Linked DNA regions of Homo sapiens: region 2 is linked to region 1. The links come from fine-mapping of genetic effects on gene expression. A gene starts in region 1. The other region holds a variant in brackets. All regions are shown on one strand. Distances are from middle to middle.

Region 1 (5,544 bases):
ATTATTATAGAATAACATAAAACTATATATAATTAAATACCAGGAGAGGGAACAAATTGAGTGATTCTTCTTGTGTGGAGAATCTGAAGGTCTCTTTCTAAGGAGGTGGAATTAGAGAATGAATATAATTTGGGTTAAAAAAGGGAGCGGGGAGGCAGGATGGCTTCCAGGGAGGTAGGGGAGGCCACAGAAAGACTGGTGGTAAGGTGAACTGCGGCAGCCTGTAGGAGGGTCTTGAGGAATCATGCAAAGTAGGGCAAGATAGATATTATAGTGTAAAATCAGGAAGGCCTAATGGCCTATTTTCCTAATGTTTTTCCATCTTTACTCCAGTATCACTTACTTTGAAGAGAGACTATAGTTGTTGCTTGTTCTAGAGGCCTTTTTAATCTTTAATGATTGAACCCATTACTTTTAAAGAGCAACGGAGAGGATTCCTTTTTCAGTCAGTTTGGTGGTACAACATCCAACTTTAGGCTCTCCTTTCTATATTGATATCTAATTTGCAATGATTGAGTATCTTGATTAATAGTATCCTAGTCATGCTACTTGCTTCTCTTTCATTCATATACCACGTCATCTTAAGATCTTTTACCATGGAATTGATGTGGTCAGAACCTCTAACCACTGCGGAGATTCTGTTGACTGCCACTGACTTCTCTACTGGCCTTATATTATAGTGGCCATCATGATGCTGTTGTGATTAAAAGCCCAAGCCCTATGCAAAATTGCCCGGGTTTGAAACTGGGCTTTGCCATATATTAGCTGGATGACCCCGGACAAATTATCTAAACTCTCTGACTCCCGATTACCTAATTTTAAATTGAGGATAGCAATAATATCTACCTCAAACAGTTGTCGGAATAAATTAATGCAGATAAAGCACTTAGAATAATTCCTGGCACATGGTATCATATAAGGGTTAATTATTACTCTTGTCTCTAATAGGGATAAAAAAATGTGCACTTAATATTTAGGAAAATTATACCCCCCATGCAAACTCTATATTAACATTTTTTAGATTATTTTACATTTAAGTTGCATTTTAAGTAGTTCTTCAAGTAAGAATTTAGCTTTAAAAGGACTTCAAATACCTTTTAACACAATCTCTCCTCTAGTGCCATAGCAAAAGGCCTGGTGTGGAGTAGACTATAGTATCTACTCAACAAATATTTGCTATGTGAATAAATAAAGTTGCAAAATACTAAACATTCAAAAGACATGTAGGTAGTTATTATGATAAATAGAGTTATGCTTCATTCTTTAAGAATACAGAGAGGTGAGTTTAAACCCAATGTGGAGAACAGTAAATCTACAAAGGCTTCCTAGAAGCAATGATACTTAACTGAATCTTAATGGACACACAGGAGTTGGCCTCATAAAAAACAAGAAGCTTAAAGGGTCTAGATAGCCCATTTACAATATTGTCTCTGATCAACCTATTCAAAATAGGGCAATTAGTTAATGAGAACCATTTTATTGGTATTTATACCAAACACATATATGAAATTTCACTTTATCACCTATTATTCTAAGTGGAATCAAATTATTCCAAGTAGATAGATATTCTTAGTGATTCTGGTTGAAAATGTGTATGTTGAAGCCTTTTGAAAAATCTGGCTGAAAGAAAAATAATAGCTATCTTTTATTGAGTGATTCCGTGCTGGCCTTGTAATGAGCTCTTTTCAGGAATTGAGTAATCTAAACCTCACAAGAAGAAAGTTCTCCTACTGCCCAAACTGATAAACTTGGTAAGTAGCAGAGCTAGAGCTTGAACTCAAGGTTGCCAAGTGCATGTTCTTAATTATTACATTATGTGAAGTTTTGTATTAACTCCTCACTAAAAATACTGTCTTGTCTTGCTTTCCTTTTATATAATTTGAAGATATATTCAAAGAAATAACTTCATTAATGATATCAATTTAGATTTTATTTCTGGAGACTTTTGTAAACTGTTACATAAAATGTAATTTATAAATTTCCCTTCGACACTACACGGATAAACTCATCACAAGATTTCTTGCTAGTCAGCACTGTTCTCCACTAAAAGTGCTTTCACATCCACATCTTTGCTTTTTCCCCTAGTGAATATAGAAAACTACTTCAATAATGCATATTCCTTTCTATATTCCTTCAACAGAATGTTGCCTATTTAAATCATTAAGATGGATTCCTAGTACAGAATCAAAATTTAAAAAATAAAAACTTCAATTGTAAATACCTGGAATCATAGTCGATGTCTAAATATATTAAGTACATCCAAAAACATATTTACAAATCTAGTATTCATCACATAATGCCTCTCAAGAAAGCAGAGATCTCAAGCAGTTTCATTTTCACACTTCCTTCATAAAAGTATTCGAATGCATGAAGGCCATCTGGCTATGTTACTACCTCCCCTTTAACATTAACTAATGTGGCAATCAGGCTAGTGTCCCACTGTTCCCTGACCACTAGCCAATATCAACCCTCTGAACATTACCCACTTCATGCTTTTTTCAAGTCCTTATCTTTACATACATTTCTACTGTTGACAACAAGCCATAATGTTGACTACCATTAGGTTTCTACTAATGTTTTCCAGTCATATTCTTCCAAGTCAGAGAATGTAACTGGCTCCACCAGGAAATAAAATAGAGGTCATTGAAGCAGCAGTGACTTCCAAGCTGTTTGCTAAATTTAGCAGCACAATACTTTCCACTCTAATGAAAACTGTGAACTGCAATTTTAGAATGTTGGAACAGGATGGGACTTTAAAGGTCATTGAGTCCAATCCCCTCATTTTTCTGATGGAAGTGTGGAGGCCTAGACGTAGCCAGTAATTTTCTGGAGGCCACAGAGCTTGTTAATTATGAAGATGGAACTCGAACTAAGATCTGCTCAGCCCTGCAGTAATGCTGCCCTCACTACACCACAGATGCTCTGCCTCCTAGGATGAGTTTAAACTAACCAGATCTTATAGCATAAACATAGCTGATATTATTGGTTGTGGCTTACCCTCCATGGCCATTCAACTGTTTCGTGGCTGAATGTGAAATAGCAAAGGTATCTGACTTATAAGTTGCTGAGAGAAATGATTCCATACCTAAACCCTGCCCCCAACTCTAAAAACTTCCTGCTTGATGTTCATCAATAATGAATGGCCCATCCCTGCAATACTCAGAGGGAGCTTACATTGCACTTTTGAGCAGCCGGTTAGTAATGTACAGTGGATAGAGCCTTTCTTTCAAATCCCAGGGCAGTGGGTCCTTCAAGGCTAGCATTGCATTTTCAATTAGCTGCTGAGTGAATGCTTGGCATGTGTATTAGTGAAGAGGCACACAATTAGCGTATTGTTCCTTTCTGTATTGTGCTGAGAGGATCCAAGGGATTGGTGGGGGAACAGGCAAGCCAGGCATCACCGTGGATGTTGAAGAAGGGGGTTACTCAAACCTCGGCATCTTCACTTGCTCGATCTGGAATTACAGCTATTTATTACGAAGCACTCTGTGTGGCTTAGTGGAGTGTGTCTGAGGAAACACATCCCGGACACCACTTAGGGTTAGTCTTTCTGAGCTCTTCACATCTCTGACTAATTATCATCATTACCATGGAGCCCAACAGTCCCAAAAAGATACAGTTTGCCGTGCCTGTATTCCAGAGTCAGATTGCACCTGAAGCAGCAGAGCAGGTATGTGAAATTGCATGGAGAACCATTCCTGTACATAAGGTAATATGAACATGCATTCTGGTTATTAATTGAAAGGTTCTTTACCTTTTGATTTTGCTAACTCTGACTTTCAAGATAATGTAAACAAGAAATAAGTTGGTTTTTACACATACTTGTATTTAAATTGCATTGGGAGAACTATTGTCTAAAATGTAACACTTCATTTGATACAAAATTAGCACCTCTGAGGGGAAAATGGCTCTGTAAGCAATTCAGATATGGATTCATAAATCTGTTCATTTTTGCTCATTAAAATAACAGTTTCAACATTTAGAGCAACTTTTAAAAATTATCAAAATGAGCAACATTTTATTTCATTTTTTATAAAATAAAATGATTGATTTAGCAATAAAATCATTAAATCCTGCAATAGTTTGAGACTATAGGCCTAATACTTTATTTTCATATGTTTTATTATTGTGGACACAAAACAATGATTATAAGTTTATATAATATATTACAGCTAGGATTTGTAGCTTTTTGTACAGTTTTAAAATCGTTTTGTTCAGACATTACAAACAGTGTTTTAACATTTCCTAGATTCTTTGTCCATGTCTAATATTGGTTTACATCTGTATCACCTTTCATATTCAGATTTACTTAGATTCTTGATGCAATGGCATCTCTTAGAACTGCAACTGTGAGGAGGCAAAAGCAAAGAAATTTATGAGGACATCAACCTAATCCATTCATTTCTTAAAACTTAAATTATTCTTGAATCCTTTTCCAAGTATTTGATATAAAGTCTTAAAAATAATTATTTAATCCGTGACTCATAGTGTTTCAGGATGTTTTGAAATCTGAGGTAGATGCACCTAGACTCAGGCCAGATAAATGTATCCTTGAACATGTGTCTATCCATGCTGAATGGGATGTTGCTTCTATCTTGGACAGGATGTCATTGATAAATTTTATTATCTATCCTACTGACACTTACTTTGGGTATTTACCCATAAATGAATATAATAAACAAATAAAGGATATTATATTCAAGGGATTCTGACAATACTATGCTCCTGTAACTCTTAAAATGAAAAAAAAAAACTTTAGAGTTTGTAATAAGTTGCATATTCTCATAAGATCCATATTTATTCTTCATTTGTTTATTTGTTCTAAATATTATACTAGAAAATAAAAAAGTTAACAAAATTAATTGAAATTCAAAGCTTATGCTGTTGATTTAACTCTGGTACCTGCTAGAAATAGGTTTCCAAGCTCTTCCTTATCCTGTTTAAAAATAAGGGTAATGAATCTTGAAAGCACCACCAATGTTATGAGGCTCCAAGCAAGCCACTAACATTATCAGGTCAACCCTGTACCTTCATTGTAAATTAATTTTCTGTTGTATCATTCAGTTGTATATAATTATTTCTTTTCCGTGGAAATGTAGCTTTTTGGTCAAAGAGGGTGATACTTCTATCAGACAGTTCAATTCTGTGGCTTTCTATTATTTCAAAATAAAATTAGTGAGCACCTTCCATGTGTCCTCCAGAAATTTGCTTTTGCATGTGGGGAAAAGATGAGGGTGAGACAGCTTTGCAAGCTGCAGAGTAACCTGGAGCAGTGTCTAATACTCACTGATATTAGCTGGGCTTTTGTCGTTCACAGATCAGGAAAAGAAGACCTACACCAGCATCACTTGTGATTCTCAATGAGCATAACCCCCCAGGTAAAGAAGCATGATGTGTTTCACACTGATGGAACAGAATGGAATTGTTTAAAGAACATCAAAGTACATGTCGTACTGAAAAGTTTCAATTTAGGATTTCACAGTTAGCAATACTCTAGAAAGCTAATCTATAAAATGGATCGTAAACAGAATCAGAAATAAATAT
Region 2 (5,000 bases), 320 kb after region 1:
TACATACACAGAAGTGGAATTGCTGGATTCTATTGTAATTCTATTTTTAGTTTTTGAGTAATCTCCATATAGTTTTTTGTTATCCCCATGTCATTTTTCACAGAAATAGGAAAAAATCCAAAAATTCATATGGAACCACACACACACACACACACACACAAAAGCAAGGCAATATTGAGCAAAAAGAACAAATCTGAAGACACCATACTACCTGATTCCAAACTATAATATAAATCTATAGTAATTAAAACAGCATGGGACTGGCATAAAAATAGACACATTTGCCAATGGAATAGAAGAAAGAACCAAGAAATGAACTCAAACATTTACAGTCAATTGATTTTTGATGAAAGTGCAAGAATACAATGGGAAGAAGAAAGTCTCTTCAATAAAAAGTATTGACAAACATGAAGAAAAAGAATGACATTGGATCCTTATCTCACTCTTTATAGAATAAACTCAAAATGGATTAAAGACTTAAATGTATGACCCGAAACTGTGAAACTACACTGAAAACACAGGGGTGACACTATACAACATGGGTCTGGGTATTGATTTTTTAGATATGACCCCAAAAGCTCATGCAACAAAAGCAAAAGTAGATAAACGGGATTACATCAAACTAAAAAGTTTCTGCACAGCAAAGCTACAATTAGCAGAGTGAAGAGAGAACCTACCAACTGGGAGAAATATTTACAAGCATATTATCTGTTAAGTGGTTAATATGTATAATATAAAAGGAAATTAAACAACTCAATAGCAAGAAAACAAATAACCTGATTAAAACATGGGCAAGGGGCCTGAATAGATATTTCTCAAAAGAAGACATACAAATTACCAACAGATATATGAAAAAATGCTCAACATTACTGCTATGGTTTGAATGTCTGTCTCCTCCCAAAGTCATTTTGAAATTTAATTATCATTATAACAGCATTAGAGGGTGGGACCTTTAAAAGGTGATTAAACCAGGAGAGCTCTGCCTTCATGAATGGATTAATGCTGTTCTCACAGGACTGTGTTTTTGTTGTGGGAGTGGGTTCCTTATAAAGGTGGAATGTGCTTTCACTGTCACCCTCTCTTGCCCTTCCACCATGTGATGATGCAGCAAGAGGTTCCTTGACCGATCCCAGCCTCTTGATTTTTGTCTTTTGAGCCTCCAAAGCTGTGAGTCAATGAATTTCTGTTCATTATAAATTACTCAGTCTGTGATATTCTGTTATAGCAGCACAAAACAGAGTAAGACAATCACTGGATCATTAGGAAAATGAAAGTTAAAACCAAAATGAGATATCGTCACAAGCCTGTCAGAATGGCTACTATAAAAACATGGAAACAGCTTGGGCAACATAGCAAGATCCCATCTCTACCAAAAAAAAATGCTTTGCTGGGAATCATGGCTTACACTTATAGTCCTAGCTACCTGGGAAACTGAGGTGGGGGGATGGCTTGAGACAGTGAGCTATGATTATGCCACTGAACTCTAGCATGAACAACAGATACAGACTGTCTAAAGACAAAAACAAAAACTAAAATTACAAAAGAGATGAAAGATGACAAGTTGTTGGTGAGGGTGTGGAGAAAAGAGAACCCTTGTACACTGCTGGTAGGACTGTAAATTAGTACAATCATTATGGAAAACTATATAGAGCTTCCTCAAGAAAACTAAATATAATCGTTTTTTAACAGTTAGCATTAAGACACTGACAGTTAAATGAAAATTGAATTTGAAAAATAATGTCCACTGGAGAAATTACTCTTTTTAATATGGCAGGCCTTGTTGACAACATTATTCTGCACAAGTTTAACAATTATAGCCTAAATCAGAACAAAATCACATCCAGCTTAGAGTGCTCAGGGAGAAATACCACACATAACATATATAATAACTAGGAAACATAAAAAGGTTGTTCTTTCAAGGATAATTCTATAATGAAATCAATTATGTAAGCAATATAAGAGAAATTGCTTTTATTTAACTCCAATAAAGATGGATGTGGTTTGTGCAAATCATCACTTTTAAATTGCTAAAAATATATTAAATATTGAAGTGCCAAATAAAATACATTGCTGTAAATCTCTTTTAAAGTCCGAAATGTAATTTAAAGTCATTGAGAAATTTATAAAGCAAATCTTGGTATAATAAGCAACTATAAATTAAGTAAATCCATATGTGGATCATGTTTTCTCCCCCTTCATTTTTAACCAGGCAGAATATTTTATAGGATAAAATAAAATAAAATGATCTAGAAATTAGTAAATTGTAATAAAATGTGATATTTGGTCAAGCATAGTTTTTTAAACTTTAAACAACAATGATGTAAAAATTTTTCACTTTCATCCAATTGTATGTTTTTATATCTTTTTTACAGATACAATGTGAGTTATAAAGTATGAAAGCCTTTGAAACAATCCAAATACTTTTTTATATTTAGTTGAAGGCAAAATATATATGCTTCTTTCCTTATAAAGTGCAGCGTGCAACCTATAAATCTCTAACATTGATTAAAATTCAGCTTAGTCAAAGCACACATACAAGCTGAGAATTCTGCTATGTTTATTTTTCCTTTTTAAATTGGAATCGTATTTATGCCCTTATCTTACCTATGTCCTTATTTCTACAACTTATCCTAAATGCCAGGTAAATATCTATTAGTAAGGTTATGAAATAGCATTAGTCTTGCTTTAAAAAAAAAAAAAGTGACAAAGAAGTTCACACAGGGAAAAAGCAGAGTTTGCAAATTAACCTAAGAAGAGCTTCA[T/C]GAAATTCAGGTTTTCCTTTTACGTAAAAAGTTGGATATGATTTTTGTTTATTTAAGAGACTCAATTGCATTAATTCTGAAAGGAGACAAGACTTATTAACTATCCCTTTATTTTACAGAACCATGTTTTTTCCTTCTAAAGTTGTAAACTTAAGTAAAGAAAAATCAGTGTGTTGTGTTTATATTGAGACAATAAATTGTGACAAAATAGAAAATAACATTGAGCATACCATCCTTATAATTCTACAATCATGGGTAATCACATACACAAAAATATACTTTATTGCACTTACACCTAACCAAAACTTAAGGCATCTCCATTTCTGCCAATAAAATGTGGCACCTAGAAAATAAAAATAAAATAAAACAAAACAAATAAGTACCCAAAGTGTCAGAAGAAACTTAGAAGGCCAGCTTCCTACTGATGAAGTCACAGTTACCTTCTAAGAGTATAAAGCATTAACTGTACCCATGATCTCTAATCAAAAAATATCAAAGATGAGAAAGTCTATTCAATTTGAATATTAAATCAGTAATTTCAGTCAAAATCACATGTGCAATTGTTTGAAGGGCGAGAAGAATGAATCAATGAAGAAAACCTTATTTTTCAGATATATGCAGTCAGGTAAAATATGCATGAAATACAACTGATGGAAAATATCAAAACCATAATTTTAAGAATGTTTCTGACACAAAGACATGGAGAAGTGAAAAAACTGCATGTGATTGATGTGAATAGCTCAAGTATGGTGGAAAAGTTGCCTTGGAACTCAATAAAATAGTTAAAATAGGAATCAAAGGCACCAAGAAGGTAATTTAAAAAGAGAGAGGAGAGAATGCCAATGCAATAAAAAACATCAAATTGGTTTTAGAAGTGACTAGTTGGCAGACAGCCCTAAGGGAAGAGACAGAGTTATCAGAGTAATTGAGGCAAGACACAAGGAACATACTAAAGATAAGCAGAAAATATAGATGAGGCAAAAATGAAATCTGCAGAAAGAAGAGACAAAACCAGGGCTTAATTTCATCTTTGAAATAAGAGTCTATCATTCACTTCAACATTGCACACATTATTGTTATTTTTATTAGCACAGATGGTACCATTATATGCTTAGCTATAACATAGCAGGAATCCAAAGAAGTGTTCTAAGAAATCCTGTGGTTTCCTTTCCTTTATAGTTAATAACTTATTAATATCTTCTCTTTAGAGGAGAACAAGATAGGCAAAGGAAATAACTATTCCTTCAGGGGGCTATGGAGGAAATAGCAAAGGTCAAAAGTTATGGAAAAACTTTGAACGTTGAAGGGAAATCATTGAAAAAGAAAGAAATGCTTTGCAATTGTAGCAACTTTTTTTTCAGATTAATACAATATGTGTCATATACTCATTTAGGGCTTTATAAACCTTGAGAGATAGTTTGACTATATTACACTATTCCATCCTCAGTATATCTTTGAGTGGTAGGCAAATATTATCCTAGTAAACGAGATGTATTTAACGCAAATTTATTCCCCCAAAGACAATATAATTGGCATTTAATGTCCTCCTTTAATTTCTGCCACATTCTCTTACAAATTTTACCAGCTTCCTAAAGCCAAACTGAACTCCTCACTGCTCCATGGCTGCACATCTCACTTTCACGTTGCCATACCTGTGGCAGAGACATTGTTATGTGCTCATCAAACTCATTTCCTTCTTCTAGGAACCCAGCTCAAACTATATCTCCCAGTGCTTTTTGCAGATAAACAAGGCCATGTGACCATGTTCTGGCCAATAGAGTGCAGGCAGAAATGATATACTCAACTTTTATGCCTGTCCTCCAAAATCTCCCACTCGATCTGCCACATAAGCGCTCTGCTTCCATATCTTTCTTCCCCTGTCTCCAGGCCAGATACAGAAGACACAGTGGAGGATGCCAAGACCTACACTCTCTAGGTTTGAGATCCTGCCTCATCCGTGGGAAGAATGCCTCCTGAATATTGAAGTGAACTGCCATGTGGGCAAGAAATATAACATTCCTCTGTTAAGCCACCAAAATGTTGGATTATTGAATAGCAGTAAGTTTTTCCTAACTCATATTATAACTTCACTCTTCTGCTTTTCATCTATTTAGATAGAAACTCTCTAACCAAGTGAACCTACTCCAGAAAAACTTTCCTGACCACTTCAGCATGTCCCAGTTTTCTCTACTATTAATCAGTTCTGCTTACTGTTTCATGTGCATAAATATATTTTTT

The links. PIP is the estimated chance that this variant, and not a neighbour inherited with it, causes the effect.
Region 2: its variant is the best candidate, but not a certain one, in a credible set for the expression of PPP1R1C in lung (GTEx, PIP 0.68).

The regions. Positions count from the first base shown.
Region 1 is chr2:181,982,522-181,988,065 of GRCh38, forward strand. It overlaps PPP1R1C (protein phosphatase 1 regulatory inhibitor subunit 1C), which reads left to right and starts at 3,332. Exons shown (of 5, transcript NM_001080545.3): 1 at 3,332-3,670; 2 at 5,318-5,378. The coding sequence starts at 3,590.
Region 2 is chr2:182,306,341-182,311,340 of GRCh38, forward strand. The region is part of intron 1 of PDE1A (phosphodiesterase 1A); the gene reads right to left. Among named protein-coding and RNA genes, the nearest start is that of PDE1A, 120 kb to the right of the region's middle. The variant T/C (reference allele first, on the strand shown) is at 2,763.